5 separate regions of the Homo sapiens genome follow, and all the other regions are reported to be linked to region 1. The links are microRNA targets in miRTarBase. Many come from high-throughput screens and were not tested one by one. Region 1 holds a microRNA gene; each other region holds the end of a gene's coding sequence.

Region 1 (6,076 bases):
ACAATGGCAAAGTGAGGTTGTAACGGAGACCATGTGACCCACAAAGCCTAAATATTTACTATGTTGACCTTTATAGCAAAAGTTTGCTGACTCCTGCTATAGCTTATGGTCTTTACTAAGCTGATCAAAACAACAGTGCTTATTGCTAAGTAGTATAATAATAATCTTGTCTTTTATAATCTAAAATATTGTGTGTGTCCATGCTTGTGCACTGGGTGTGCCTATAAAGTACCAGATAGATTTAAGCATGTAACTGGTATATGCCGCTTCATCCAAAAAGACTTGCCTACATGCCCTTTGGAAATCTATATATTTTGTTTGTTTGTGGTTTCGTTGTTGTTGTTTTAGTTACGTTTAGCTTTGTCAGCAACACTTTGGCCCAGACAGGATTAGAGCTGAGACCCCTGGCCATGAAGGTCTTCCCTGAAGCAGAGGAGGGCAGGCTCCCCTTGGACGGTCTCGGTGGGGGGTTGACTTTGAGGCTTACCAGAGCAGTCAATACTGCTGTGGTATTTTGAGTCAAGTCGGTTTTTGAGCCAAATGAAAAGCAGCCTGTTTGATTGCTCTCAATTTCCTCTTGGCTTGCAGGGGGATAAGTATCCCTGGGCTCCCAACCTCATATCCTCCCCTGGGCTGAAGGCACTCTTGTCCTCCAAGCCTCCCCTACAGCAGTGTTCATGGGCAGCTGGAGCAGGGCTGCCTACCCATTGCTACTCCCAGGAGCTCAGGACTGGCTCCAGACCCCTGGCATCTGGAGCAGAAGCAACATCAAAGCAGGGATTGGCCAACTCCCACCCCTAATGCCAAACAGGCCAGGCACTGGGAGCACTCAGAGGCGTGACGAATCTCAGCCTGTCTCCGGCTAGTGTTCCCTGGCCAGTCCGCTTTGGGCCCTGCCTCACAATGACGGGCTCATCATTCAGCCTCGCTCATCTGCTCATCATTTCAGGACTGCTCTGTTACTCGGCAGGCTGCTTGGGTGAGTTGTGTGTGCGTGTGTGCACGTGTGTGTGTGTGTGTGGATGCACATGCATTGTTTTGGAAAAAAGACTCTTGGAAAGCAGACTGTACTAGGAGGTTTTAGCAGCCTTTAAATTTTTTTTCTTTTTAAGTTTTTCTTTCACAGGGCTGTTTCTCATTGTGAAAGCCTTTAAATTTTAAACTGCTCAGCCAGTGTTGAAGTTGCAATGCAAAGGGGTTTCACAGTAGAGTTGGTGGGGACCTGGCATACATGCTAACGGGTGTGTGCACTTGTCTGTGTCCCTCTTGTGACCTTGACTGACACAAGTACCTTGTGCTGGCAGCTGGTACCTTGGCTGGCAGCTGGTACCTTGGCTTTGAAGTAAAATCGTGTTCTGTAGTCTGGGCCCCCGCTGGCGTTGGGTGGCTGAGACAGTCTCCATCACTCTTGAGTGGACTGCCTTGGGTAATTTGGCTCAGAGGCACAGCCACCAAACCACAAATTGTTCTTTGTAGGTTGTATCCTTGCCTGCTCAGGGACATACAGCAGAAGGCAAACTCTACCATGTTCTTTCAGAGAAGTTCAAATTACGTGCAACTTTTAGGATCAGAATTTGTCTTTCAAGGTTTGTTGTGGGGATTGAAGGAAAATTGTAGGGTGCAGCCTTCTCTGGAACATGTGAATTGGGGGGAATTTTGGGCAAATTGCATTCAGTTAATGTAAGAACTTTACTGTAGCTGAGACCCAACTCACTACAATAAAGTCAAAGCACTCTGAGCTGCCATACAGCGTGTGCCCTTGGCTTTCTCTCTTCTTTGGGGTCTGTCTCTCTCATGCAAGTTCCCACAGGCAGGGAAAGGCCCCAAAAGAGGAGGAGGAAGTAAAAAGCTGACTAGTCCACCAACTGGACAGGCAGGTGCAGAACAGTTAAATGGCTGCACTTGTAATTCTCTCAACCTGCTGAGGCAGGATGCTTATGTCACTTCTTTCCTTTGACAGTTTCTAATGACACATTTGTTGGATTGAGGGGGTGGGAGGGAAGGCTACTTGATGGAAAAACAGAAGGCAGAAATGGAAATGGCTATTTCCAGTAACCTATTGTGGGGCTGGCCTTGCAAGAGGGTAGATGAAGATGGATACAGTGGTGGTTCTGGTGTCATACTTATTTTAAAAAGGGACTAAAGGAGGCCAGGTGCAGTGGCTCATGCCTGTAATCCCAACACTTTGAGAGGCTGAGGTGGGCGGATCACCTGAGGTCAGGAGTTCAAGACCAGCCTGGCCAACATGACAAAACCCCATCTCTAGTAAAAATACAAAAATTAGCCAGGCATGGTGGCACTCGCCTGTAATCCCAGCTGCTCAGGAGACTGAGGCATGAGAGTGGCTTGAACCCTGGAGGCGGAGGTTGCAGTGGGCTGAGAACCCACCACTGCACTCCAGCCTGGGCAATAGAGTGAGACTTCGTCTCAAAAAAAAAAAAAAAAAAAAAAAAAGGCAAAAGGACTTTGGAGATGATTTGGGCAAAACTCTTTGTGGTACAGATGAGGAAACTAAGTTTCAGATTGAGTAAGTGAGTTGTACTGGCTCACATGGCCACTTGCACCTAGACTTAACACTCTTTAATCAAATCCATGTCTTTCCAAGAGTAAATTGGAGAAAATCGCTTTCCAAAGATGTGCCTCAGTTTCTTGAAATGAAACAAGAGAAAGTCTCCTTTTCAAGAATGGGTATTGAGTCCAAAGGGCAAAACCAGCATCATCGACAACAAAAGCTTCAAACACTTGCCAAAGCCTGCATTAAACAATTACCCATAATTTGGCAATGCACTGGCCACATACAACATGAGCTTGATGTCTTTAAGTTGGGACATGCGGTCCTGAAGTTCCGTGATGGTTGGCATTTCCAAGGCAGCTGCCTGGTGCTGAGCCACGTGCTGCTCCCAGGTTTCTGCAGGCTCCACGGAGATACGCACAGGATTGCTTTCAATACAACAGAGCCTTCCGGGGCTTTTCCAGACTGGAGCCTGAGCTCAGACACAATTCTATAGAGACAGTCCATGAGAAAGACCCACAGGCCACTCGGATGACACCAAAATAGACATGTGAAGTCCTGGCTTAGTTGACTGGGAGGGAGGAGGGAGGGGGAAGCTGCTCCCAAACACGTCCACCTGATGGAAATATTCTGAACAGGAATGAGCTGTAAATAAACTAGGCTCCTAAAAACAAATAGCTTCAGGGAGTCAGGGGAGGGCAGAAATAGATGGCCTTCCCCTGCTGGGAAGAAAGTGGGTCAAGGGGGAAAGGGTGAGGGGGATGGGGTGGGGGAGCCGAACAATGCAGAAGCCTCAGCCAGAAATGCAGCTGATAATTTGTGGTCACTGAAGAGGTCTCCAATTTCCAGGAAGAAAGGAGAGAAGTGATTGCTTTAAATGATACAAGGTCCTTCATCAGTGGAAGGCCACACAGGGTGCTGGGTGAAGGAAGGCACTGGAGGCCATATATGGTCTGGAAAAATAATGGTGATGAGTGCATATTAGCAGTGTGGGCCTGCCAGCCTCCCAGGTGCTTTTGGAACACTGCAGCCTCAGCCCTTAGCTGTGTGCTGAGGCAAAAGAGAAGCAAAGGAGAAACTGTAGCCAGGGGACCTTAAAAACGTTCCGGGATTGGTGTGAACCTGCCAGCCTCCTCCACCCTACAACTGAAGCTGCCCACTCCTAGCGACTCAACACTCTAGGAAACTTGGAGAAGCTTGAGGAGGAATACATTGGCATTAATGTCAAGTTCGGGAACAATGTATCCATATTATTTTACCACTGAGAAAAGTAGCCCGTGACAGCTGGAGCTGCCCTGACTCTCAGAGCTCGGCATGGTGTTTTGCAACACAGAAGCGATGTCACAGAACACCAACTTCAGACAGGGTCACCCTGTGACCTTGATGGATTGAGAAGAAAGTAAGAATCACTTGATAATCACAACTGAACACAGACGAAAACAGGACTATCATCCAACCACAAAAGTAACTAAACATTCTCCTATCCTTGCTAATATGAGTGATTGCTGCTGTTTAAAAAACCAATCACAGCTTTGGTCTTGCTCCACTCTCTTCTAGATATGAATTAAGGTACTCAATTATAGAATGGCCCTTTCTTCCTGATGGCATCCAATTCAGAGTGAAGCCAGACTTCATTTCCTCAGTCTCCCCTCCATCACTTAGCAAAATCCCCAACCCTAGGATCAGTCCTTCCCAGCATCCTCTAACTGAGATGCCCCACGGTTCCTTCCGGTGTGTGTTCTCCCTCTTTGCAGTGAGTCAATAAACCCAGCTTGGTTCCCTGAAGCCTTTGCTTGGAGGGCACTGATGCTATAGCCCCAAGTTGTTGTTATGGGACTTGAAGCTCCAGACCTTCATTTCTACCACATGCAGTCATGGTGTAGAGCTCAAGAGGAAGGGCTCCGGAACCAGACTGCCTGGCTCTGTCACTTACTAGCTATATGACTTCGGACAAATTGCTTAACCTCTTTGCCTCAGTTAATGGATCTGTAAAATGGAGATGATGATAACAAGAGTAGTACCTAGCTCTTAGGGTTGCTGTGAGGATTAGGTGAATTTCTATGTGTGAATCACTTAAATGGTGCCTTGCATGTGGTGTTTGTCATTATTAATTCAGCAAACGTTTGTGGAGTGTCTAGCATATGCCAGATACAGTGCTAGACCCTGGGGATAAAAGCTGGCTCCTGCTCTCCCAGAAAGCACAGTTTGGTCAGAGGGATACAAGGAAATAGTTTTTCCCCATGGAGGAAACCTAACATAGGGGTAAACCCAGAGAAAAACAGCAGGGCCACTCAATCTTGCCTGGGAAGTCAAGGAAAGCTTCCTGGTGGAGACGGCATCTAGTGGAGGCTGCTTGTGGGAGGGCAGGGAGTGGGGTACAAGCAGAAGGCCTCTGAGCTCTGCAAGCCTTTCCAACTACAGATGCCATTTAGGTACTTTCTGCTTCCCACAGGCCTGGCCCAGTGCCTGGCAAAGAGTGTGCTCAAATGAATAAATGTCTAACACCCATAAACTAGTGCCTGCTGTGACTTTTCTTTCTCAAACTCTGACCACTGTTGCCCTGGGTACCCTGCAACTTCAAAACCACCCTTGATTCTTCCTGCTTCTTCCCTCCTGCAACATGTTGGCCCCGTTTCTCTGCATCAGTCCCTCCCTTCCTGTCCCGTGCCCTGCTGCATGCTCCCATTCTCCAAGCCTGTCCTCCCCACACCTGCACCTTCCTTGCACACAGTGTTCTCCAGCACCATTTTGATCCTGTCACTCCTTTACCCTGCACCTGCCGTGGTTTCCTACGACTTTCCAATTAAAGCCTAAACCCTTTTGTGGGGTATCCAAAACAGCACAATCTAGCCCCAAATTAACTTTCCAGCTTTCCCTGCATCCTGACCCCAACAGTCACTATTCCTTTAAGATAAGAGCTTCCTCTTCAGTGCAATGGCACAATCTCGGCTCACTGAAACCTCTGCCTCCCAAGTTCAAGCAATTCTCCTGCCTCAGCCTCCCAAGTAGCTGGGATTACAAGCATGTGCCACCACGGCCAGCAAATTTTTGTGTTTTTAGTAGACACGGGGTTTCGCCATTTGGTCAGGCTGGTCTTGAACTCCTGACCTCAAGTGATCTGCCCACCTCAGCCTCCCAAAGTGTTGGGATTACAGGCGTGAGCCACCACGCCTAGCCTGTTTGACATATTTTGGAGTGCCTGTCTGCCTGGCCTTCCTCAGGAGAAACTCCTCCCACAGCCTCTGTTGAGCTGGTGACAGACCCTGAGATCCTGCTAAAGACTGGGTCTGAGTCTGGTCCAGGGCAGGCTCTGCTTAGCTGCCCCCATGACCTGTCACCTGGCTGGGCAAACAGATTCCCTGTGGTGGCTATTTGAACTAAGACCCACAAGGGGATGTTCCAGACAAAGCAGATGGGGGAGGTAAAAGAGGTGAGGCAAGACTGGGTCAGCCGTCATGGAGAGATGGGCGTGAAGACGCCAAAGAGGATGGAATGGATCAGATGCACAGAAAGAAGCATAAAAGGGGAGATGGGGGACAGGGGATCGAGGAAGGTGAGAGAAAT
Region 2 (6,076 bases), not on the chromosome of region 1:
AGGGAGGTGGAAGGGGGAGCTGAGGGAGCCTGGCGTGGCGTGGTGGGCTGCAGAGTTGGAGATGGGACTGGAGGATGCAAGAAAAAGCAGAGGCGGGTAACAAGTGCTGGGAGCGGCACTGAGCTGCCCCTCACTGAGACCTCCATGTACCTCCAGCTGGAGGAGCAGGCCGCCCGCTCGGCCGAGTATGGGAGCAGCCTCCAGAGCAGCCGCAGCGAGATCGCGGATCTCAATGTGCGCATCCAGAAGCTGCGGTCCCAGATCCTCTCTGTCAAGAGCCATGTGAGTATCTGGGGGACGCGCCTGGGGGCGGGGAGGAGAGCAGGGAGACACACAGTCATGTGTGCTGAATACAGGCAAGACATGACTGAGTGACCCTGTGTGGGTCGCTTAGCGCCTCTGTGCCTCAGTTTCCTAATCTGTCAAATGGGATAATAGCACAGCCTCCTAAAGTAGTTATGAGGCGCTCTGCATACAAAAATACTCTGTAATCTGGTCAAGGCTGCTGGAACGTTAGAAAGCCCCCACACTACACACACCCAGAGCCCACTGCCTCCCTCCTGGGAACCCCCACCAACTACACAGAGAGGAGGGAGTAGAGGCCTAAGTCCCAGCTTCCAGCCAGGACAAACCTTCAGGGCAGGTGCTGCCCCATAAGGACAGCCGGGACAGGCTCCTTTAGTGGCTTGCGGTGCTTTCCTCTGGCCTTGGGAAGGTGCCTCTTCAGGTCTAACTGAACTCCCTCTTGCTGCATGGCAACCAGTTACCACACCCAGAAATGCCATTGCTCAGCCCTCCCTCCCCACACCTACCCCCACCAAGGACAGAGACGACTCCTGGCCCTGGCCCGCTCCTCCTTCCCCTGCTCACAGGCCCTTTCACTCTGTCCTCCTGGCTGCAGTGCCTGAAACTGGAGGAGAACATCAAGACAGCTGAGGAGCAGGGTGAGCTGGCCTTCCAGGATGCCAAGACCAAGCTGGCCCAGCTGGAGGCCGCCCTGCAGCAGGCCAAGCAGGACATGGCGCGGCAGCTGCGCAAGTACCAGGAGCTGATGAACGTCAAGCTGGCCCTGGACATCGAGATCGCCACCTACAGGAAGCTGGTGGAGGGCGAGGAGGGCAGGTGAGAGCCAGGGCTGGTGAGGAAGGGCTGCAGGGGAAGGAGGGCTGGAGGCCCAGGCCTACACAAAGTCAGTTCTCCTTTCCAATATGATACAGTGAGCCTACCAGGCCTGGGTTTAAGTCTTGGCTTAGTCACTTACAAACTGGGACCTTGGCCCAGTTCATTTCATCCTGTTTCCCCATCTGGAAAGTGGGCTGATCATAAACATGGTTCACCTGTGGCAGGGATGATTCATGTGATTATGCCTGCAAATGCCTGTCAAAACTCAGTGCTCAATGCTATTAGCCATTTATGCCATGGAGATGGGACAGAGGCCCAGGAAGGACAAGCTGGCTAGCCAGGGCCACACAACAGGGCAACCCCAGGGCTGGGAGTGACCACCAAGAACTACCCTCCACTTGCCAGCCCCCAGGGGAGTTTAAGCCACAGGCTCTCTTCGCATCCCATCATATCCCTCTCCCACCCCCCCGTCCCCCACCCCCAGGATGGACTCGCCCTCAGCCACTGTGGTCAGCGCTGTGCAGTCCAGGTGCAAAACCGGTGAGTCCTCTTGCCCCGAGAACCCATGGTGGGGTGAGGGTGAGGGTGTAGGGGATCATGATCCTAAAGGCATCATTTTAAGTGGCTCCCAAACCTCCAGCCCCTTCCCTCCCCTACCCCTTATGTTCCCTGTAGCTGCCTCCAGATCAGGCCTCTCCAAGGCCCCCTCCCGAAAGAAGAAGGGCAGCAAAGGCCCCGTGATCAAAATCACCGAAATGTCAGAGAAGTACTTCTCGCAGGAGTCGGAGGTCTCAGAGTAAGGCGGCTGGACCCCAGGAACCCCAGGGCACTCCACTGCAGCAGGAGGGACTTAAGCTAGACTCAAGAAAGCAGCTTGGAGCCTCTAGGTTGAGAAGAGAGGCAAAACCTGATATTGAACTGAGAGAGGGGTTCAAAACTGACTGTGTTTTGTGGGCTGCCAGGGTGGGAGAGGAGCATCACCAGCTCCTCAGAGCCACTCCGCTCCATATCAGTATCTCACAGTCCCATCCTTCCAACCTTCTGGCCAGAGGTTTTCCTGATGGGTGAGTCGGAATTAGGGGTCAGTTTTGTCTCCACCTCCTCGCTCCTCTGAGGCTCCTCCTCCAGCATCAGGCTCTGCCAAGGCCCCTCTGACTCTTGCCCAATCCTTGACCTTGACTCCTATCTCAAGCCTTGCCTTGTCTCTGCCTCGGAACTGGGACTGGGACTGGCTCATCCACCTATGTGCGGGAGCCGAGGAGGACGGCGTGGGCCCTGTCCTGTATCTGGAATTCCTGGGAAGGCTGGCTGCTGAAGACCCTCTTGGCTTTCCCGTGCTCTTTGGGCTCCCCAGAGACCTGACAGTATTAGGGAGTGAAGGGAGGAGGGGCCCTGGCTATTTGGGACCTAAGCCTAGGCCCCAGAGATCAGCCCGAACACCCGCATCCCTTCCTCCTCCCATGGGTCCCTCCCAGTAGGCAGTAGTCAGAACTGGATGGGCTGCCCCCAGCCAGCTCCCAGCAGCTTCTCCGGAAGCTGCTCTTGCCATAATCAACTCCCTGGGAGTGGAAGCCAGATGGCAGCTTGAGATTGGGCAGGAGCATTCGATCTTCCTTTCACCTCCCTGCCATGCTGGGGTCCTACCCAGCCTGGATCTGAGCTCTGTGCCCCCAGCCGGGTTGTTCCCAGCCTGAGCACCGGGCTTTGGTGCACCAGGCCTTGGAGACCCCTGGTCCCACCCCTGCCGTGAAGCCCCAGGCCCACTTCCCAAGAATCTCACTTCTCAGGGCCTCTGTTCTCCTCTCCACTGGGCCAAATAGCCTGGCCCTCCCCTCCTTGGCATTCATGGGGGAGCCCAGGAACCCCCCACACCTATGGGGTTAGAGCTCCTCCTTTCTTCTCACTCCTTCCCCTTCCTCCCTCCATGCCCACTCCCCCTGCCTCCAGCAGGCCAGGAAGAAGGCACAGTCCAGGCAAGTCTGGGAGCTTCCAAGCCCTTGAGGTCCAGCTGTGGGGCCCAAATGACAGCCTTACAAGGGTTCTACCAGAGAGGAAAATTCCACATCCCACCAGAAGACAGGGGTGTTGGCAGGCATACTCCTATCTCCTCCTCTTGGCTCTCAATGCTGAGGCTTGCAGAGGCATCCCAGCGGCACCAGCCTCCCACTGCACAGCTTCCTTCCCTCCTTCACTCTCCTCTCCCCTCCCTGCCCCTTGCCTCACCTCCTCTTCTAGACTGCATTAGATTCATTCATCTCATTTGCCAGGACATGTTGGCCAGAGGTCTGGGCCCATCCCAGGCCTCAAGGCCCTCCAGGCCTGTGGGGAGCACTGGAGGGTTACTGACTCTCTGGCCATGGGAACTCAGAGATTCTCATCCCCAAAGTCCCAAAAGAGGGTGCTGATTGGTGCTTTTCCTCAGGCTCTTCATTGGTTTCCAAGGGAGCAAATCCTCAGTGGGGATACAAGACATATAAAGTATATATTATTTTTTCATAACTTATGTGGCTTTTAACTTATTGCTTCCCTTCCTGTTTCTGCATGATCAGTCTGTATGTACTATCTGGAAAGATAACACATACTCCAGCCACCTCACCTGATTGGCTATCTTGGGGCCATGTCCCCTTCTTGCTGCCACAGGATGAATAAAGTGTTGAGATTTGTCTATGGAGAAAGCTGTGTGTCTGTTTTTATCTCCCCTCTCAGGACCAGTCAGCCACTGGTCAATCAGGCTGATCATGGAACATTAGGAATTCTCCAATTAAGGGAGAAAAAGTCCAGGGACTTAGTTATATCTTCAGACCAGTGCAGCTGGTACACACAAAGTTCTCCTGTCTCACCATCTGATATGGTTTGGATGCTCGTCCCCTCCAAATCTCATGTTGAAATGTAATTCCCAGTGTTGGAAGTGGAGCCTGGTGGGAAGTATTTGGATCATGAGAGAGGATCCTTCATGAATGGCTCAGCACCATCTCCTTGGTGATGAGTGAGTTCTCACTCAATTCACATAGATATGGTTGTTTAAAAGAGTCTGAGACCTCTCCCCTCTTTCTCGCCATGTGATATGCCTGCTCCCCCTTCACCTTCCGCCTTTACTGTAAGCTTCCTGAGGCCCTCACCAGAAGCTGAGCAAATGTTGGTGCCATGCCAGTACAGCCTGCAGAATTGTGAGCCAAAATAAATGTCTTTTCTTTATAAATTACCAAGTCTCAGGGATTTCTTTCTTTTGTGTATGTGTGTGTCTGTGTGTGTGTGTCTGTGTGTGTATGTGTGAGACAGAATCCTGCTCTGTCATCCAGGCTGGAGTGCAGTGGCTGGATCTCGGCTCACTGCAACCTCTGCCTCCCGGGTTCAGGCAATTTTCCTGCCTCAGCCTCCCGAGTAGCTGGGATTACAGGCACCCACCACCATCCCCGGCTAATCTTTTGTATTTTTAGTAGAGATGGGGTTTCACCATGTTGGTCAGGCTGGTCTCAAACTCCTGACCTCAAGTAATCTGCCCGCCTCGGCCTCCCAAAGTACTGGGATTACAGGTGTGAGCCACAGCGCCCAGCCAGGGGATTTCTTTATAGTGTGTTTAAGAACACACTATAAGCACAGCCAGGCCCCTGGGCTGACTAATACACTGTGCTGCACTGAGACTGCACCAACGTTGACCTATGTTCCCAGCGCCTCCTGACATATCCAGGCACCACACAGGCTGCTTTAGCCAGCACACATGCTGGGGATTCCCCAGTGGTGGCAGGGTTTCTTCTTAAGCACTTCTGCCCTACTGGGAATTGACACAGCCCAGAATGTATTCTGATGCGTACGGGCCCAATCCTGCCAAATCAAATCCCAAGTCAATGCATAAGGATTGAGGACCTTCTCCAAGCCCAGCCTTGTGCTAAGACTCCTCCAAGACAGGGGTCCACCCCTCAATCGCAAGTAGTTCACAGTCAGGCTGAGAGATGAGATATCCACCCAAGGTAGCCACCCTGGACTTCGTCACCACGTGCAGAAGTGGGTGCTATAAAGGTCAGGGAAGAGAAGGGCTTGTGGAGGGAATCAGAACAGGCTGCTTAGAAGAAGGGGGACTTTAAGTGAACACAAAGGATCTCAGTTAGGAGACAGACCAAAGCAGGAACAGGTGTCTGTCTCAAAGGAAAGGAATAGCGGGAAGGGACGTGGCAGCATTTGTGTCCTGGCCCACCCACTCACCAGCAAGGAGACTTTAGGCAAATAGAGCATCACTTTCCTCATCTGTAAAATGGGGCACACCTCTTCCCTACTTAACTCACGGGGTGCTTGGGCATTTGATGAGGTGGCTATGTTTATTCATTTCAGGAAAGCCACATCTCTTGCTTCTGTCACTCTGAACTATAATAGCTCAACAATTGTAAAGGATTATTAGTGATGGTGTGATTATTACAGCAGACATTAAGGATTAAAGGTGACCAACTAATCAGGAGACTCAAATGCAAGCAAATAGACCTCGTGCTGGCTAAGAGCACAGCACAGCCAGGCCCCTGGGCTAAAGTTCAGAGGCTTGAGTTTATCCATTCTCCTGAAGACCCTGAAGGGCAGGCTCCACTCTCAAAACTCTGAAGAGACTGATAAGCCACATACCCGTCCAAGAGAGGCCTAGAGCTGAGACCAGCTCTCTCATTTTATCTCTGTTTTCTGTTTTATTAATTTCTGAGTCAGAGTTTGAATTTCTGAATATGAATATGAATTTCATAGTCAAGAATTTCATGAGGCCAGGTGATGGCTATACCTGAAATCCCAGCACTTTGGGAGGCCGAGGTAGAAAGATTGCTTAAGCCCAGGAGTTCGAGACCACCTAGTCAACATAACAAGACCCTGTCTCTATGAAAAAAAAAAAAATTAGCCAGGTATGGTGGCAAGCACCTGTAGTCCTAGCTACCTGGGAGGCTGAGGCAAAGGATCGCTTGAGCCCAGGGGTTGGAGGCTG
Region 3 (6,076 bases), not on the chromosome of region 1:
GGCCATTACTTAGTAATTGTTTTTCTTCGTGGAGGGGAATTGTAAAGTTTAAAGGAGAAGATAAGAGGCCCTGTGGTCAAAAAGGAATGTGAAGAGGTAAGGAAGGTGGGTAAATGAAATTCTGCAAAAACCTTAATGATATTTCCAAAATTGGCGACAGAGGTATTGGGATATAGATAACTAAGGAAGAGCACAACGTGTCATATTTGGAGCCCCTCTCATTTGAATCAAAGAACTGCTAAGTTTTACACAAAATAACAGGAGGACAAATGATTATTATTTGAATATGATGTGATTTTACATCTAGGAATCCTAAGAGAATTAACTTATGAGACCACTATAGACAAAAAGACAATGTGGTCAGGTGGTCAGTAATAAAACGAAATTATGTATAGGTTTTAAAATATATCGAAAAAGTTAAAGATGCAATTGATATCCATTTAATAATGGCAGACGTCATAAAATAATTAGGGATCAACTTGACAAGTGAAACACTCAAATGAAGAAAACCATAAAGCTTTACTAAGAGATATAAAAAAAGACACATAAGAGAAGATAAATATATGCCAACTCAGTGATTTGGGAGGCCGAGGCAAAAGGATTGCTTGAAGGCTGGAGTTCAAGATCAGCCTGGGCAATACAGTGAGACCCCTATCTCTACAGAATATATTAGACAATTAGCCAGGCATAGTGGCATGTGCCTGTAGTCCTAGCTGCTCAGGAGGCTGAGGGGGAGAGCTGCGAGAGCCCCGGGGTTTCAGGGTTACAGTGAGCTAGGATCACAACACTGCACACCAACCTGGGTGACAGAGACAGACCCTGTCTCAGAAAATGTATATATTTATGGATTATATATTTATATATAATTATGATAATACATATAATTAATAACATATAATTAGTATACATTATTATATATAAATATATATATTTAAAAGACAAGATATACCTAATTTTGGATAAGAAGATTCAATCTTACAAAAACGTCAATTTTTATTTAGTTTTTTTTCTAACATAAAATAATTCATTCAAAATTCAACAAGTTTTTTTTCCCCTCTGGGAACTTGAAAAAAGTTTATTTAAAAAAGGACATATGTTAAAAGATCCAAGAAAATACAAAAACAAAGATACTAAGACAAACAAAAAAGACTGGGTTGATGAATATAAAGCTACAGTGTGGTACAGTTATAGACAAAAATGAAAGAAGAGTTTTAAGAACAAAAATATACCCACACTCTTAATAAACTTGTGGTATGAGAAAGAAACGCTTTATTTCAGTTGGGGAGAGGTAGCATTGGGAATATTGCCTCTGCATACAGATGGGGTCATGAAAGAATAAATGATTAGTAATAGTTCTCACTGGAAAGTGTGATTGAAAGATCATAATTAGGATTAGGTTTTGCTGTTGCTGACAGCAACCTCAGGTAACTGTGGTCTTAAGAAGGTTAAGCATTGCATTTTTCTTTCCTGAAAAAGTCTAGAGTGGGTGGTGCAGGCTCTTTCTATCTCATTGTTTTTCCTTGCATGGACTCATCATGGTCCAAAATGAAACCATCTGTGTTCCATCATGAAGCAGGATAGAAGGAAAAGAATGAAGGGGAACAGAGCAAAAGGCCCACCCGCAACGTCTCTTACGGAAGCTTCTTGGGAACTGCTGCCACTTGCACTTACATCCCATTGGCCAAAACTAAGTCACATGGCCATGCTCAGCAGCAAATCAGTCTGGGAAATGTAGTCCTACATTTGGGGAAATGCTGTTTGTGGGCAACTGGCAGTCTCTGCTTCAGGAGGGTTGAGAGTGTTAAAAGGGGGAACACTTACACTTTCTGCTTTGTATACTTCTTCATCCTTTCAAGATTTCCATAGTAAGCATGTAGTACCTATAAAAATGTTTTAAATAGATATCTTTGAAAAAAAAACAAAAAAGAAAAACACTTGAAGAAAATACTTCAAAATGTTAATAGAGGTGATTGTGTCTCGGTGAAGAGGTTAGATATCCATGCATCTTTATATTATTCTGTATTTCCAAATTTGACTACAATGAGAATGTGTTATTTTTATATTTAGGAAAAAAAACTCCCTTGCACCCTCTTCCCCCTGCAATAAGGAAAAGAAAGAGCCCAGTCCTGTTCATCTAATGTGGTTCAGAATGTCAGAATTATTTCCATTCCTCTTTTACAGAGCAACAGCCTTCGGCATTCTCAATGGATTATGCAAATTTGGCGCCATCCTGGGAAACACCATCTTTGCTTCTTTTGTTGGGATAACCAAAGTGGTCCCCATCCTTCTGGCTGCTGCTTCTCTGGTTGGGGGTGGCCTGATTGCCCTTCGACTGCCAGAGACTCGAGAACAGGTCCTGATGTGAACAACCTATGGGAAAAGGAAAGGTCGAGAGAATCTTGTCCAGGACACTGAAATGCATCCACACTTCCTGCCTATCACGGTCCGGAGGACACCTTGGATAGCACGGGAGGAGAAGTTGACTTTGTGACCCCTAGTTTAGGACCCACTTCAGCTGTCAATATGTTTGTAACTCAGGTGACTGATTTGGGGGTGCCCTGAGCCACCCTTAGAATCACAGAGCTGCGTGTTTAACTTCAAGTCTTCCCAGTCCAAGGCAGGGAGAGGATTCTCCAGTGAGTGCACACACTATGCGAGGAGCAAGCATTTCTCTAAGTCAAGTGCAAGGACTTAACTTGCGTTTGAAAAGGAATTAGAGGGTCAGAAACACCCAGGTTCCTCCAGAAAGCTCCTTGGAGCCCAACAACTTAACAAATCAACTTGGCTGGAAGTTAGAGTCATTATATGAAGATTGGGCTTGAAGTATATATTTTTGCATTTAAAAGTATCACCTATCATATTTTCCACTCGAAAATTGACATAGTAGCATTGAGGATACTCTGATCTAGAAAGCCAAGTATTTGAGCAACATCTATAGAGATCTACTTTTCTCCTATGTCTCCTAGGCTTTCCATGATAATTAGGTAATACATTTAAGAAGGATATTTATTTCTGTTTTGCTCTATTCAAAGAAACGGAATGGGATAGTTATTCTGTAAACTAAGTTTGTATATAACTTTATTTGGGTTTAATTTCCACAACTGGTATCTGCAAATATTGCCAGCATTTTAGCCATATTTTGGGAGAACTTGGTGTTTGAGGTCCCAGGAAATGAGGTCTGATCAAATGAAATGCAAGCACAATTTCTTACAGCCATTTAACTTTCTGTTGGGAGGATGAATTAACAAACTCACATTGTGCAGTCTGCTTAATCCAGGCACTTTTCTTTGTGCAGGTGTAGTGAGTAGTTACTTCTCTCCCTTACACAGATGACTTGTGAAACTCAAGCTCACCATCTTCAGTGCTGGCATTTTACTTTGCCACTACCCAAAAACAATGTGAGATGTGTTCAGTGGCCTCTGGTACTCTTTGCAGGCAAGAATCAAACAACATGGGGACTGAGGGAAGGATGGGGAAGTGTAGCCACAGTTCTTCCAAATGTAAATACTTTTTGTTTGTTCTAGTGGTAAAATGCAAATGCAATCCATATTTGTTAGGATGGTCAGGTCTCATGAGAAATCTATGCTATGTGTCCAGAGCTTTTGAAACAGAGTCCATTGGAGTGGGAGTTAGGGAGTGTAGTGGATGCCAAATATGTTTTTCTTCAGTGCTTAAGAGAACTGTTTCCTGAAGTCCAGCTTTGAACATAAACAGGGGTGTGGGTTGGGGGAGGAGCTTAGGACAAACCTCTCTGATGAAGGTCAGCAATAGACTGAAGTCTTGACTGCATGGAAGAGGAAAAACATCAGAACTGTCTGACAATGGAGGGGACAGTGAGCTACGCACAACTGCCAGCGGAGGTGAACTTGCACCTGCCCAGGCCGGATGAACATCAGCCTGCAAGAACTAGTTGTTTGAGTTGATTTGCAGTGCTCTCAATGGGCAAGTGCCACATTTTCCCTGGCAGAGATCTCCAAAAATTTAAAACAGAATAATAATGGCTATATCGAGTGTTTTCTCAGTATTGGAGAAATGCTTAGGTCCTATGATAGCTTCGGGACATCTTTCTGTAATTTTCCTCAATTAACGGGTTGGTAGGGGTAAATCTTATGACACCTTTCCACCGTCGATTTGAGATCAGTTTTAATGGTTAAAATGTTTACTCTCCTTCTGTCAACCCTCACCTTTTTATTTACACCCCTCCCTTTTTTTCTGTACAGGGAGAGAAGACATATTGACTCTGACTGGACACCCTGATTCCTCCAAATATATATACCACTGTGTATTAATCTTTCTCTCAGTGTTTTATAGGAGTACTAACATTTATTGCTCTGTCAATAATGAAAGGCTCGATGTAATATAGCTGTAATTTACTTTCCATATGAATACAGTGGCTAGGTTCATAAAAGAGAATTGTGTGAGTCTGGGATTACCACATCTAAAACATTATTCTTTAATGGGATAATACAATTCATTGAGCAGCTACCACTTAAAAAACTTGCAGGACAGTTAGAGCCTGCATTTCTAGTTAAGATGGATCTTGTAAATTTAAAATTGGATTAACATTGGAGTGCTGGGGTGGCTGCAATAATTTGGGGGCTAACTCCATTTGGTTTCCAAGATCTCACTTCTGCATTATCTTTATGGCTCTTTAAACCAGCCACCTAGCCAATCAAGGGCAATTCCCATCTCATCCATCACTCAGGTCTTTGTAAAGGGTGCAGCCAAGCTCTGCAGACTTTTGCAGGATTGTCTAGCCTGAGTACCGGGCTACTTCTTAAATGCCGTCACTCCTGCTGAGATAAATGCGTCTTTAAAAATAGTCTCTGTGGCAGGTCACTGGGGGACAATGTACAGCATTCTGGCCATCCACTTCTTTTTCACTTCATGTTCTACCCCAAGAGACTCCCGATGTCGGCTGTGGAGGGTTAAAGGGATGAGGCTTTCCTTTGTTTAGCAAATCTGTTCACAGTTCTTGATGATGTATTTTATGATGCCCAGCTTGGAAATAGTTGCTTTCCATAGTCTCAACTGTATTGTGTCATCTCCTGATGCTGATTTTTGATCTTTTGTTTTATTAAAAATAATTAGTGAAAGAGGTGTGCCTATCTGTGAAGTTTGTAGTACATCATCCTGAGGTCATGTAACAAGTAAACCCCAACCCAGCGTTCCCTCCTACGTTGTGTTAGTTCATTAAAACTAAATAATAAAAATAACTGTAAGAAAACCTTAAGGACTGGGGTTAGAGATTATTTTCAGGCACTAAGGTCTCTTCTGTATTCCAAAATTGATTGAATCAGCTGGGAGAAACATTGAGAATCGCTTCCTTCAACTTTTATTTTGCAACATGGGGACCTTGAGAGGTTAAACGATGTGGCCCAGATTACATGTAATGTGAGGAGTGGGCGAGAAGGCCTAAGGTGATGCTCTCATGACAGTTCTGGGGAAGCCTGCAGTTTGGGGAATGGGACAATGTGACAAATACTCGCCATTCCCTGAGACCATTCATTGACTATTCCCTTGATGGCTTTACTATAATGAGAGGAAGCATCAGTTTAAACATAAAAAGATTAGTATTTATCCATCCATTTATTCATTCAGCAAATCCTTATTGAGCCCTGACCATGGGCCAGTCTCTCTGCCAAGCCCTGGGGACACAGTGATGAAAAAACTGGCCACAGTTTCTGCTTCCTGCCTCATTCCACTTGCAGTGAGCGGATATTAAATTGGCCATAAACACCGAGTACGATGACCTTACAATCCGCAAACTGCACCTTTCATGTGTAAAAGGATTGCTACTACTTTACTTGTCAGCTGTGGATTTCCAAATGTGGTGGCTCCCTCTTATTTTTTTTTCTTTGAGGAGTGTACCAATTTTTTATCTTTATAAACCAGGTAAGGGAAATGATGCCCTTGCCCATTTTCTACAGACCTAATCGATTTTTACCTAATCAGTTTTACAGAAAGGGTTACATGGAAGAAGAGATAGGGGCCAGGAATGCAAGAGGGACATTGGTGAGTGGGGTAAGAATCCCCGTAGCCCTGGGAAAGGTGTCTCCACTTCCACATCTGGCTT
Region 4 (6,076 bases), not on the chromosome of region 1:
ATAGAAGTCTAAGCTAAGACATAAGCACCTTAATATGTTCAAAGGGAACTCATAGTTTCCATCTATAAATCTGTTCAGCCCAGTATCAAGTAGTATTTGCAAGCATGGATTTTAGGGTCAAAATATTGGCTCCACTCTTGGTTTCGCTACTTACTTACCTACGTGACTTAGTAACAACATGAGGGAATGGAGAGGCAATGAAGTATGAAGGTTGAGTGTTCAGGCTTGGAAAACTAGAATGCCTAGTTTCCATCCTGGCTTTGCCACCCACTAGTCAGTTAACCTTGGGTAAATTACATAACTTCTCTGAGCCTCCACTTCCACATCTGAAATATGAGTGTAAAAAGAATACTGATTTCATTCAGTAGTTGTAAGGCTAAAATGACTTTATTTATACAAAGAGATTAAAACATTGCCAGCAACTTACAGCCATAAATACCATCAGATTTAGAAGGTTCTTCACAGGATTGTTCTAAGGATTAAATAAGAGAACAGCTACAAAGCACTTAGCACCATTTGCAGTACTTAGAAATCTATCAGAGTACAGCTAGTACCCTTCCTACTGATTCTCTGTATTTTAGTAAAATCTGATGAGAAATCAATTGCAAACATAATTTCTCATCAGATTTCAGATAAAAACCCAATTCCTTCCCTTGGTTCTCTAAATCATGCACATCTGTCCTCCACCTGCTTCTGAAGCTCCAACCTCCTCCCTCACCATATTGCAGCCATAGTAGCCTTTCTCATCCAAATTATGCCAACTTTCTATCTCCTCATGAGATATTTGCACCTGCCGTTCCCAGTAACCTCAGGGCTCAGTGCATGAGTTGAAGCTGCCTTTCTTTATGTTTTTGAGACATGGTCTCACTCTGTCACTCAAGCTGGAGTGCAGTGGCATGACTGTGGCTCACTGCAGCCTTGACCTCCTGGACTCCAGTGTCCCTTCTACTTCAGCCTCTGGAATGGCTGGAACCCGTCATGTGCCATCACATCCAGCGAATTTTTAAATATTTTTGTAGAGATGGGGTCTCCCTATGTTGCCCAGGCTGGTCTCGAACTCGTGGACTCAAGTGATACTCCTGCCTCAGTTTCTCAGTGATGGGATCACAAGTGTGAGTCACCGTGCCTAGCAAAGTTGCCTTCTAAATTCCTTAACAAATGTGAGGTTAGGCATGGTGGCTCACACCTGTAATCCCAGCACTTCGGGAGGCTGGAGGATTACTTGAGCTCAGGAGTTTGAAACCAACCTGGGCAACATAGTGAGACCTCATCTCTACTTAAAAAGAAAAAAAAAGTTTTAGGCCGGGCATGGTGGCTCACGCCTGTAATCCCAGCACTTTGGGAGGCCAAGGCAGGTGGATCACGAGGTCAGGAGATCGAGGCCATCCTGGTCAACATGGTGAAACCTCTTCTCTACTAAAAATACAAAACTTAGCTGGGCATGGTGGTGCACGCCTGTAGTCCCAGCTACTCGGGAGGCTGAGGCAGGAGAATCACTTGAACCAGGGAGTTGCAGGTTGCAGTGAGCCAAGATTGCGCCACTGCACTCCAGCCTGGTGACAGAGTGAGACTCCATCTCAAAAAAAAAAAAAAAGTTTTAAAAGACAAAAAAAAATGTACACATTCCTTGAAAAGGGAAGATAATGTGGACAAGGTGCTTTGAACAGGCAATAGGAACATAACTGGAAGCAAGATTCTTCTGAAGGTGCTGTAATGGCTGAGTGGTTAAGACACAAACTTATCACCTTCAAAAATTAACTCGTCTTATTATCTTTCTTACATTTTCCTTCGCCCTTCCCACACATCCAACAGTTAAACTAGTATCAGGCAGAGTGCAGACCACAGTAAGTATTCATCAAATGAATATCATGAATAAATGAATAGCTGGGGAAAAACTACTCTCATAAAGGGAATACAAATTTGTACAATCCGTTTATGTTTGTTATTTATATTAAGTTCACATGTGCCTGATTTGTAGTAGATCTCTCGTTATCGTTAGCTCAGCACCGCTTCCTTCCTCTGAGAGACAGACTGACTCTTCCATAAATAGACATAGCGGGGACTGTGAAATTCTTATGGGATCCAAGTCCCAGTTGATTTGCCCAGTTGCAATCAAGTATACAACCCCTAATTCCTCATGTCTAGCTCGTTAATTAACCTCCCCTCATTTTTTTTAAGTTTGCATTTGAGAGGGAACTCCCAGACAGTGGTAAACATAGAAATACTTAACCCTTAGGAACTGTCAGCTGCCATGTTCTCCACCTACATCATTAAAGAAGTTCATCTGTAAAGAGAATGAAGCTAACAGGAAAGATGGTCTCCAGGGCTACTAACTTAAAACTTCATCCACTTTCTGACCTTCTCATGGTTTATATATTCAACTTATCCTTCAATCAACATATCCCATATCCTTTCTTTTTTTAATTAAATTGTAAGAGAGAGAAGGTCTCACTATGTTGCCCCCATTGGTCTCAAATTCCTGAGCTCAAGTGATCCTCTCACATCAACCTCCCAAAGCACTAGGATTATAAGTGTGAGCCACCGTACCCAGCCCATACCCCATATCCTTTATATAAATTCATCTTTTTGCTTAAATTAGTTCAAGTAGGGTTTTTGTCAGCAGTAACAGAGCACTGATTAATGCAACATTCTGTAACCACTGCACAAGAGAATCATCTTCTGATTTCTTAAAACCAATGCTAGTACCCCAGTCCAAAAAATGAAATCAGAATCTCCGCAGTGTGGGACCTGGGCATTAGTCATTTCAAAAGCTGCTTAAAAAGGTGATCCTTCCAGATATTTCACTTCAATGAATCAATCTTTCAAGAATATTCATTATAAGTAGGTGTGCAGAGATATATTTTAACACAAGATTAAAAAGACCTTATATAAGGCCACTAGAGCTTTTTTTTCATTCCACTCTAATAGCAAGAGTTCATATCAGAACACTTTAGGAATTTATGTCAGGTCCTAGTCACAGACCTGCAAGATCAGATCCTCCCCAATGGCATTTTTTTTTCTAATTTGTTGTAGAGACACGGTCTCACTATGTTGCCTAGGCTAGTCTCAAACTCCTGACCTAAAACCATCCTCCTACCTCAGCCTCCCAAAGTGCTGGGATTACAGGCATAAGCCACTGTGCCTGGCCCCCCAGTGGCATTTTAATCCCTCAACGCCCCTCCCCCCAACACACACACGTTCATATATAAGTAGTGTTGTGGCTCTTATGTGATTCTGTTTTTTACATGCAAAGATTTTCAAAGTGGCCAAAAACTGGTTTTGCACCTCAACCCAACACCTTCCTCAAGGTTCTCAGAGTCAAAGAAAGAGAATTTTCTTTGGAGAGTTGTTCAAGTGCTAAGCAATTTCCACCTTTCTCCCTCACAAGGTGATGCTCCCTACTTCAATTTAAGCTTGAGAGCCTGAACTATGTCCTCTGGAGTCTCTGAGGCCCAAAGGTCTATACCAAACACATTACGTACCAGAAAAAAACAAAAGTTGAGACTAGCCAACCAACTGCCTATCTGATAAAGAAGTGTCTACCTAGGGATAACTTACAGTCCCTGGATCTGTGAAAGCACAGCATGCACATTTCATAGAGAACTGACCTATAGTCATACATATATACATACATACACATATATATATATATTTTAGACAGAGTTTTGCTGTCACCCAGGCTGGAGTGCAGTGGCACGATCTCGGCTCACTGCAACCTCCACCCCTTGGGTTCAAGGAATTCTCGTGCCTCAGCCTCCCGAGTAGCTGGGATTACAGGCGCCTGCCACTATGCCCGGCTAATTTTTGTATTTTTAGTACAGACGGGGTTTTGCCATGTTGGCCAGGCTGGTATCAAACTCCTGACCTCAAGCAATCCACCCACCTCAGCCTCCCAAAGTGCTAGGATTACAGGCATGAGCCACTGCGCCAGGCCCCTTATAATCATTTTAATGTGAACTTTGCTAGCTCTAGGACCAATGAAAGTTTAAGTGAGCAAATCCCTATGCTAGAAACCAGGGGCTAAGGAAGAAATAAAAAAGTAGACATCTGGGGAAAGGCATTGCCTCTCAATGGTTCTTTTTTGTTTTTGAGATGGAGTTTCGCTCTTGTTGCCTAGGCTGGAGTGCAATGGTGCAATCTCAGCTCACCACAACCTCTGCCTCCCAGATTCAAGTGATTCTCCCTGCCTCAGCCTCCCGAGTAGCTGGGATTACAGGCATGCGCCACCAAGCCCAGCTAATTTTGTATTTTAGTAGAGATGGGATTTCCCCATGTTGGTCAGGCTGGTCTCGAACTCCTGACTTCAGGTGATCCACCAGCCTCAGCCTCCCGAAGTGCTGGGATTACAGGAGTGGGCCACTGCACCCAGCCTCAATGTTTCTTAATCTTGAGCATGTATCATAATCACATAGGCTTCTTAAAATACAGCTTGCTGGGACCTACACCCAGAAGTTTCTGGTTCAAAAGGTCTGGGATGGAGCCAGAGAACCCTCATTTATTTTTTATTTTTCTGAACCTACGGATTATACTAAAACTTTTATTTCTAGTAAGTCCCCAAGTGATACCAATGCTGCTGGTCCAGGACCACACACTTTAAGAACCACGGGCCTACATTAAGAAAACGGCAGGCAGAGATCCTCAGACACAAGGTCAACTCTCCACTAACACCTTGGTGGAAGAGCAGATGGACAGTCGGGGGAAGAAGAGAAGAAAGTGCTCATATAAAGTCCAATTAGCTAGGGGCAGAGTGGAGTTACTGAAAGGAAGACTTAGTCCTCACGGTCATTCAAAGAACCAGACTGACAATCTTTGCCATCTTCGGTGGCTTCCAAACTTATCCTGGATACGACCGTCCAACCAGCAGCTGGGAGAAGAGAATGGAGGATCATGCAAGAAATGTTTATGGGGCAAGCCTGGATTCCTATGCCCACATTTCACCGCCTACGACTTAGTCATATGTTCTCACAGAGATGCTGGGAGTAGGGAAATGTCCCTGGCTGGATTGCCACATCTTGACAACATATCTTCAAAGAGCAAGAATCTTTGGTAGACACCTAGCAGTCTCTGCCATCAAACCCCTTTCCCATTGTGGACTTAAACAAGTCTGAGCTTAGCTTTAAAGAAAATGTATAGCTAATGACACAGACATCTTAATTACTAAAATTAATGTCTGTAACTTAAAGTGACCAAAGGACTTATTACCTGAGTGACTGGAAAAAAAAACAACAATTTATGGGACTTCCCTGCAAGAGTCCATTCAGGATAGGGAGAAAAGACTGAGCTAGTGGGTTTACAGAAGCAGTCATGAGGAAAAAATGAAGTTTCTATTTTATAACTCTACTGGGCTCCTCTCTATCAACATGTTATGCTACTTTTTGGAGCTTAAGCAAAATTTTTAATGGAATAAGTCTAAAGATTTCATAGTTTTACATGTAGAGAGCTTAATATCCATTTATCTATCATTCTTAAAGCAAATGCTAAATCCCCTTTTCAAAGACGAAAACTTTGCTATTATTGAGGTTATCATCAAAGTTTTACTGCAACTCTAAAACATAGGAATGTCCCATACAACAGCAGCTAACACTTTGCTTTTTAAAGTGATTCTTCTTAGTGCAGGGACACTCATTTGTCTATGCTTGTTATACAGCGAAATTACTGCCTATGACATCTCATAATTGAAAAATTTGGAGTCAAGATTAAAGCTGTTTACATTTTTAGTGAAACTTCTCTTAAGACTGTCCAAAAGAAAATGAACTAATATATGATGCTATTATCAAAAGGAAAAAAAGAAAAAGAAACATCTTTCATGGTCTTTCATTCATCTCATCAATTAGGACACACAAGGCAGCATCTTTCTCTATAATCTGATCTCTCCTATGACCTGAATTTTCTCTTTGATGTTCATTCTGTCCAGTACAATTGTTGCTATCATCAGCATCCATTGGTTCAGTTTTTACTCTCATTCCTGCTTCTGAATGAGGCAAATCATCAGGCAAAGAAGCCAAGCAATTCTGAATCATTTCAATTACTCGTTCCAGGTGCTTTTGAAATCTCTCAGCTGTTTCAAGCCGTTGAC
Region 5 (6,076 bases), not on the chromosome of region 1:
ACAATGAGAACAATTTCTCTATGCGCATTAGGTTAAGACCTCTTCTCTGTTTCTAGAATACTGTGATGACTCACATCCATGGGCCAGCTGCTTCCAGGAATCCATCTGGCCTCAACAACATTGGGCTGCCTGGAATAACGGCTGGCACTTGCACAGGGCAGGGTATGGGGAGCAGGCCTCAGGTTTATAAGCAGGACTGGGCACTGCTGAAATAGGGGAAGGGGGCAGCCAACATGTAGCAGGTTCTCCCAAGGCATGTAGAAGTTGGTGGGAAAATGGGGCTGGGGTGTGTAACTTGTCCCCTTCCAGGAAGGGACCCAGGCACCTGGTCTCCTGGCCAAGATCACAGGCGATCCAAGAGTCCTCCAGGGAAGAACAAGAACTGCACAGACGCACAGCAGAGAGGCTTTCCTGGCTGGCCATGAGCTGACCATGGTGACACGCTTCACTCCTAGCCCCCAATGGTGGAGCGAGTCGGGAATCTCGGCTGCTGCAGGTGGAGCTCAGCTGGACAGCCTGAGGTACTCATGGACCCTGAGCGTTGTGACATGTAAAGGAGGGTGGCTGCATCTTCCTTTGGTGTTTGGTCTAAAGCAGTGGTTCTCAAAGTGTGGTTCCAGGGCCAGCAGCTGCAGCTCCTGGGAACTTGTCAGAAATGCAAATGATTGGTCTTGCCCACTCCTGATGAGAAATTCTGGGGGGTGGGGCCAGCAATCTGTTTGTAAAAGCCCTTCCAGGTGATTCTGATACTCACCGAAGTTTGAGAACGACTGGTTTAGACGCTTGGTCACTATACCCTCAGTGGATGTGAGCCCGGCCCAGCATGGCCAGTATATCAAGAATGTTTTCCAGGTGGGTGACAGGGTGGGTGGTGATGACAGTGACTGTCCCAACTCACTTCTCCAGCCTCAAAACCCTGAAGAGGGCCCAAGTAGCAGATTCTGAAACAAAGCTGGCTCCAAGGCAAGAGGGCCCCGAGGCACATCACAATGATCTACCATATTCCCCCCACACCCCACAGGGCCGTGCTGGGCCCTTCTGGATGTAAACACCTCTGGCCATGCACAGCACAAGCTCCCTGACAGAAATCACACAGGGTCCACCCCAGAGCCCCAGCAATAGCAGGTGCCCCATGCAGGGGGCTAGAAAGAAGGCAGAAAAGGGCCTCACCTGAAGGGGAGGTGGTCAACACAACCCCAGGGTGCCCCTCCCTGCCCAGGGTTGCTCTGGGAGTGGGTGTGACCTGAGGGGTGACCTCCATGTGGACATGAGATTCTGCACCCTGCATGAAGGCCCTGAGGGCTGAGGGACAGTCCCTGCTCTTGCTTTGGGGTCAGTGTTTGTACCTGGGGTGACGGGCTGGGTGGTCGTCACGGGCCTTAGCCCTTTGGGCTCTTGGCCACTGCCTGAGCCCCTGCACCCAGAGGGTCCAGCTGTCAGCCTGAAATAAGCCAGGCTTCTGCACCCCCGGCCCATGTGCCATGGGTGCTGCTTTGTGACAGTGCCCCCTGAGTGACACTCTGTTCCTTAATGACAGCCTGATGGCTCCTTATGGAGATGGAGAACTGGGGGACACTGAGGGGAGGGGTTCCCGGCCCAGTTTTCTTCCTTCTCCCCAGCTGGGGGTGGCAAGACAACAGCCATGACCACTGACAAGCAAGTCTTAACTTTGCCCAGCCTTAATTTCCTTTTATAAAATGGGGGAAATAACACCCTCTTGCTGGGGTAACTGCGAGATAAGTATTTATGGTGACAGATTCTAAGTGCACAGCAGGACCTTGGTAAACACAAAAAAATCCCTGGACACACTCCCCACTTACTCTGCCTGAGGGGCTCCTGGAGATGGGGCTAGGGTGCCGGGGAAGCAGGAGGGAGAAAGACAAGAACGGTCACAAATATTCCAACCCGTCAGCCAAGGCCACGTTTCATTCTTGCCTGCTGTCCTGACACAGGTCACCCAGGGGACTCGGGGACGCGCCCTTCTCTTGGTGTCTGCCCCTGCGAGCTCAGGGAAGGGCAGCATGGAGTGTGCAGGGCAAGAACGTGCCCGTGCCAGCTGGGTGGGATCCCAGCACCTGATGCTGCTTTCCTAGGGCCCTGGTGTGCAGGGGCCTTTTGCCTGCACGGGACTGAAGGTGACATTCCACAGGCGTGTCCTCTCTCTCCAAGGAACTCAAGGCTGTAGCAGCCTCCAAACAGGGGCCCGGGAGGAATTGACCTGGGTATGGATCTGTACCCTCGTCAGCAGGAGGGGCACACCCCGCTGGGGACCACATCGTTGGCTCTGGACTCCAACCATTGTACACTCCCAGGCAGAACCTGCCGTATCCTGGGCCTCTGTTTCCTCTAACCCTGTCTCATCTCCCAGGCTGTTGGCATGGACAAGGAGGTCAGATTTCCAAGCCCTGGGTTGTTCTACCACTGTCTGCCGCTTGGACAAGCCATCTTTCAAGAGGCAGTCTGGCTGGACGACACACAGGGCAGGAATTGCAGCTAATCCTGCCCCAGTCAGGCTGGACCAACCATCCCATGGGGCTGGGGCAGATGGGGCAGGCTGTCCTGGGCCTGCCTTCAATGATAAGGCTGTGCACAGGGCACCTGCCTGTCACCTGTCTTTCATCCCCACCAGGGCAGACAGGTAAGGCCCCAGCACCCCCTGCCCACTGCCGCCTCCCCCTGGCACCTCGGCAGGAAGAACATGGCTCTAGCCCAGTACCCTCTTTCTCTCTCTCACCACTCTCCCTCTGTCGTAAGAGTTGTCAGTTGTGATCTCATCCTTCAGAGAACTTGGGAGTCATAGTCAGTTTTTGATTATCTGCATGAATCCCAGGAGGTTGGAGGGCAGCAATGCTAATCACGCACTATACCATTTCTCTCGGCCTCTGTGCAGTCTGGGATATCTGGTCTTCGTTTTAATGAATTTGCATTGGCAACCCCAGGGCCTTTTAGGCAGGGGAGATAAACCAGCCTAGGCTCCAAGAAGCCACTGGAGAACACCCAGAGAAGAGGAGGCAACCGGCCCCGAGGCTGGGCTTCCCTCTGTCCATGTGGGTACTTCCTGTGCTGAGGATGCAGTTTCTGGACAGTTCAGGGCTCTGTTGGGGTCAGCACTGGGTGGCCTTGAGGCCACTCCTATGTATGGGAGAGAGAGCACGCCTGCCCCAGGACTGGCCTAGGTCAGCAATGTGCTCATCACAGTGCAATCTGGATCAAGCAGGGAGGTGAGCTGGGACCTCGCTCAGCCTTGGCCTTAGCACAAGGTGCCCCCCTTCATGGGGGGAAGTAAGAGGGTCCCGCTCTGGGGAGAAGTGCAGGAGCTGGGGAGGGTGGAAGCCAGGTGTGGGGTTCTTGTGTAGTGAATGGGCTGCCCCTTTGTAATAGCCATTTGGGGGGGTCCCTATGGGTGTTGTACAAAAAGCTGCCAGCATGGATACTCTGTATTTTCTAGGATTTTCTTTCTGTTCTCCCTTATTACTGGGGAAAGTTCTTCCTGAAAATTCCGCAAATTCCCTGCTGAACTTAGTGATGCAAGAGAGAACCCAAGGAAAAAGCTCTGTCCACTCTAGGACAGGTGGGAAGGGAAGCAGAGCTGGACCCCCTGGAAGCAGTGTGGTGGTGGCTACGGGGTCAAGGAGAGGGCCCCAGGAAAAGTGAGGTTCAGGCAGATGCCCCTCTATTCAGAGCTGCCCCTTCTCAGCAGCTCCGACTTTGCAGGGTTGCGAGTTGGTCCACTCCAGGAGATGTTTGACACCCATCAACATTAGGTGCTGAAGATGGTCTGAAACCTGGTGTTCCTGAGAATCAGGCCCCGGAACAGGAGATTCCCGAGGGGCGTATCACTAGAGGCCAGGGCTTGGGGCCATGGTCTCCCAGGGAGGTTTCTCCCAGGAAGGCAGCTAGGCAGGTGCAGGGCTCTGCTCCTAGTGCAGCATGTGCTGGTATGGCCACCTTACCCCCTGCTTCCTGCCAGGGCGGCTCTACCCAGCCTGTGGCTGCCCTACCCAGGCCTCCCCACTCCTAGGCCCTTCAGGAAGGAATGAGGCCAGCAGGACATGGCTTTCCAGGTGAGGCAGTGTGGAGAGTGGGCAGGTCAAAGGGCAAGGTCTTCTGGGGGAAATGCCAGCCCTCCCTGCCCCACCCCATGCTTTTTCCAGAAACAGCAAGGTCAGGGCTTCTGGGCATGGGTGGGGGAATCCCGTGCTGAATGCAGGAGTGCCGGGGTTCCTGGGTTTTCTGCCGATTGTTCCAGGTTCAGGAGCTGGGAGGGAGCAGAGAACCCAACCGCCACCCTCCCGTAGTCCACGGGTGCCCCCGTTCCTGGTGAGGGGCTCTGGTTGTCTCCTGAAAGGATCATTTCCCTGCCCAGGATCTGGCCATGGGGGCTCAGAAATGGAGGAGAGGGGGCCGAGGGTCTCTGCCTGGGTGGGCACAGAAGCTATGGTCTCAGGCACTCGGTGGATTCGCAGGAGCTAGGCACAAAGGAGGGGGCATCTATGGCCCTAGTGGAGCTGGTGCTAACTCTGCAGGCCTTGCAGATGGCATGTGGCCACATGTTGTCTTGAGGGGCAGTTGGAAGAGGAGGTGGTTGGCCATTAGTAAAAATGCCGCTGGAGCCTCTGGTGCAAGCAGCAGGTGAGAACCATCCCGCAGATCTGCCAGGTGGAGAGAGCAGAGGAGCAAAGAGAAATCAGAACTCCTGGAAGCTGCCGGCCCTCAGGGCCCTGGAGCAGTGCTGCTCACTCGAATACCCTGGGGCCTGGGCAAAGGGCAGATTCCTGCTCAAAACTGCTCAAAATGTCAGGGTGGGACCTGAGGTTCTGCATTTCTGACAAGCTCCCAGGTGATGGTGGTGTGCCTGGGGGAACCACATTCTGCCATCTACTATCCAAGAGCAGGGCTTTGCACACTTTAATGGGCATGAATCATCTGGGGACCTCCTTATTACAATTCTTCAGGCCTAGTGGCGGCCTGAGAGTCTGCATTCCTAGCAAGCTCCCAGTTGATGCTGCTGGTCTGTGGTCCTAGATCTTCTCCAGAGATGGCCTGATTTAATTAGGCCCTAAGAGTAATGTTTCCACTCCCTCATCAGAGCTGTCTGAAGTGGACTGTCTCTCTAGGAAAGAGTCTGCCTGTGTTTTGCTGTCCTTAGACTCTAGAGCAAAACTCAGGTCCATCTTCGATGCTCTGGCTGGTGTACAGGAGCCATGGGGGAAACTGAGACTCTGGGAAGAGCCTCCTGAGCTGTCACCCTGTCAGTCAGCATAGAATAAGAGCTGGTGAGCTCACCCTGTCAATCAGTGTAGAATGCAGCACCAAGCTCAGGCCCCAGGCGTCCTGTCTGCCAGCCCTTCTGTCGGTATCCACAGCTGAACAAGGGGCTGGAGCATCTGGTCCAAAGCAGACACAGGCCTGGGAGGATCACCCTGCACACCGCCTTCTCACTTCTCCCACTTCCAGAATGCAGAGGAGCTTTATTCTCCCTCCTTGCTCTTCATGGGCCCTCCTCTGCCTTCTTCCTCCTCTTCCTCTCCTCCCTCCCACCCAAGGATGCATTGAGGGTAATGTGATTATGATCCTGATAATGATGATGACATGTTGTTGGATCTTGGCTCTCTGCACACAGGAGGGGGCACTGGGCTAAAGCAGCCCCATGACTGTCCCGTGATACCTGGGGTGAAGGTGGCTCTCCTAAGTATTGAAACAGTGTCCTGACTTTCCTAGCAGCTGCTGCTGCCCTGACCTTGCCGGTGCAAACCTGGATGCAGGTGGAGCTCTATCCAGTGGGAGGAGAGCAGGCTGGTGGAGATGCGTGTGTCCTGTACTGTCTCTGACAGCTAGCTGGGGGAGGTAGTGTGGAAGGGGCCCATCCTCTTCCCCTCCTTCCTCCTCTCCATCCCTCCCAACCTGGAGGACAGCGTGGAGTGTGAACACTGCTTTCAGCCTGCAGACTTGGTGTTAATCCACCTGGGGCCTCAGGCTGAAAGGCGGCTTAGGAGGTTATCTCATCTCCCGCTAGCTTTACGCAGGCGGCCGTCATGCCGTTCCACCCATGCAGGTTTCCCTACCTCATGGTTTG

What was found. Region 1 holds the annotated microRNA hsa-miR-4270 (UCAGGGAGUCAGGGGAGGGC, at 3,193-3,212, shown strand). A microRNA usually pairs through its seed, bases 2 to 8, with sites in the 3' UTR of a target mRNA and lowers its output. Matches are read on the target gene's strand: a 7mer-m8 pairs with bases 2 to 8, a 7mer-A1 pairs with bases 2 to 7 and ends in A, and an 8mer does both.
Region 2: the mRNA of KRT80 is a reported target of hsa-miR-4270. Seed matches in the 3' UTR shown: 7mer-m8 at 2,678-2,684, 7mer-m8 at 2,743-2,749 and 7mer-m8 at 3,326-3,332.
Region 3: the mRNA of SV2B is a reported target of hsa-miR-4270. Seed matches in the 3' UTR shown: 7mer-A1 at 5,493-5,499.
Region 4: miRTarBase lists MED7 as a target of hsa-miR-4270. The part of its 3' UTR that is shown has no 7-base or 8-base seed match.
Region 5: miRTarBase lists TSPAN11 as a target of hsa-miR-4270. Seed matches in the 3' UTR shown: 7mer-m8 at 3,871-3,877, 7mer-m8 at 3,215-3,221 and 7mer-A1 at 2,007-2,013.

The regions. Positions count from the first base shown.
Region 1 is chr3:15,493,415-15,499,490 of GRCh38, reverse strand. It overlaps MIR4270 (microRNA 4270), which reads left to right and starts at 3,183; the gene lies at 3,183-3,252. All of the region lies in intron 1 of COLQ (collagen like tail subunit of asymmetric acetylcholinesterase), which reads left to right.
Region 2 is chr12:52,167,244-52,173,319 of GRCh38, reverse strand. It overlaps KRT80 (keratin 80), which reads left to right. Exons shown (of 9, transcript NM_182507.3): 6 at 157-282; 7 at 902-1,122; 8 at 1,607-1,662; 9 at 1,798-4,324. The coding sequence ends at 1,922. Among named protein-coding and RNA genes, the nearest start is that of KRT80, 22 kb to the left of the region's middle.
Region 3 is chr15:91,290,188-91,296,263 of GRCh38, forward strand. SV2B (synaptic vesicle glycoprotein 2B) reads left to right here. Exons shown (of 13, transcript NM_001323032.3): 13 at 2,182-6,076. The coding sequence ends at 2,365. Among named protein-coding and RNA genes, the nearest start is that of CRAT37, 170 kb to the right of the region's middle. RefSeq lists an enhancer at 1,532-1,826.
Region 4 is chr5:157,132,926-157,139,001 of GRCh38, forward strand. It overlaps MED7 (mediator complex subunit 7), which reads right to left. Exons shown (of 2, transcript NM_004270.5): 2 at 4,499-6,076. The coding sequence ends at 5,805. Among named protein-coding and RNA genes, the nearest start is that of MED7, 6.9 kb to the right of the region's middle.
Region 5 is chr12:30,990,432-30,996,507 of GRCh38, reverse strand. TSPAN11 (tetraspanin 11) reads right to left here. Exons shown (of 8, transcript NM_001370302.1): 8 at 1-4,652. The coding sequence ends at 4,593. The region is part of intron 2 of TSPAN11-AS1 (TSPAN11 antisense RNA 1); the gene reads left to right. Among named protein-coding and RNA genes, the nearest start is that of TSPAN11-AS1, 13 kb to the left of the region's middle.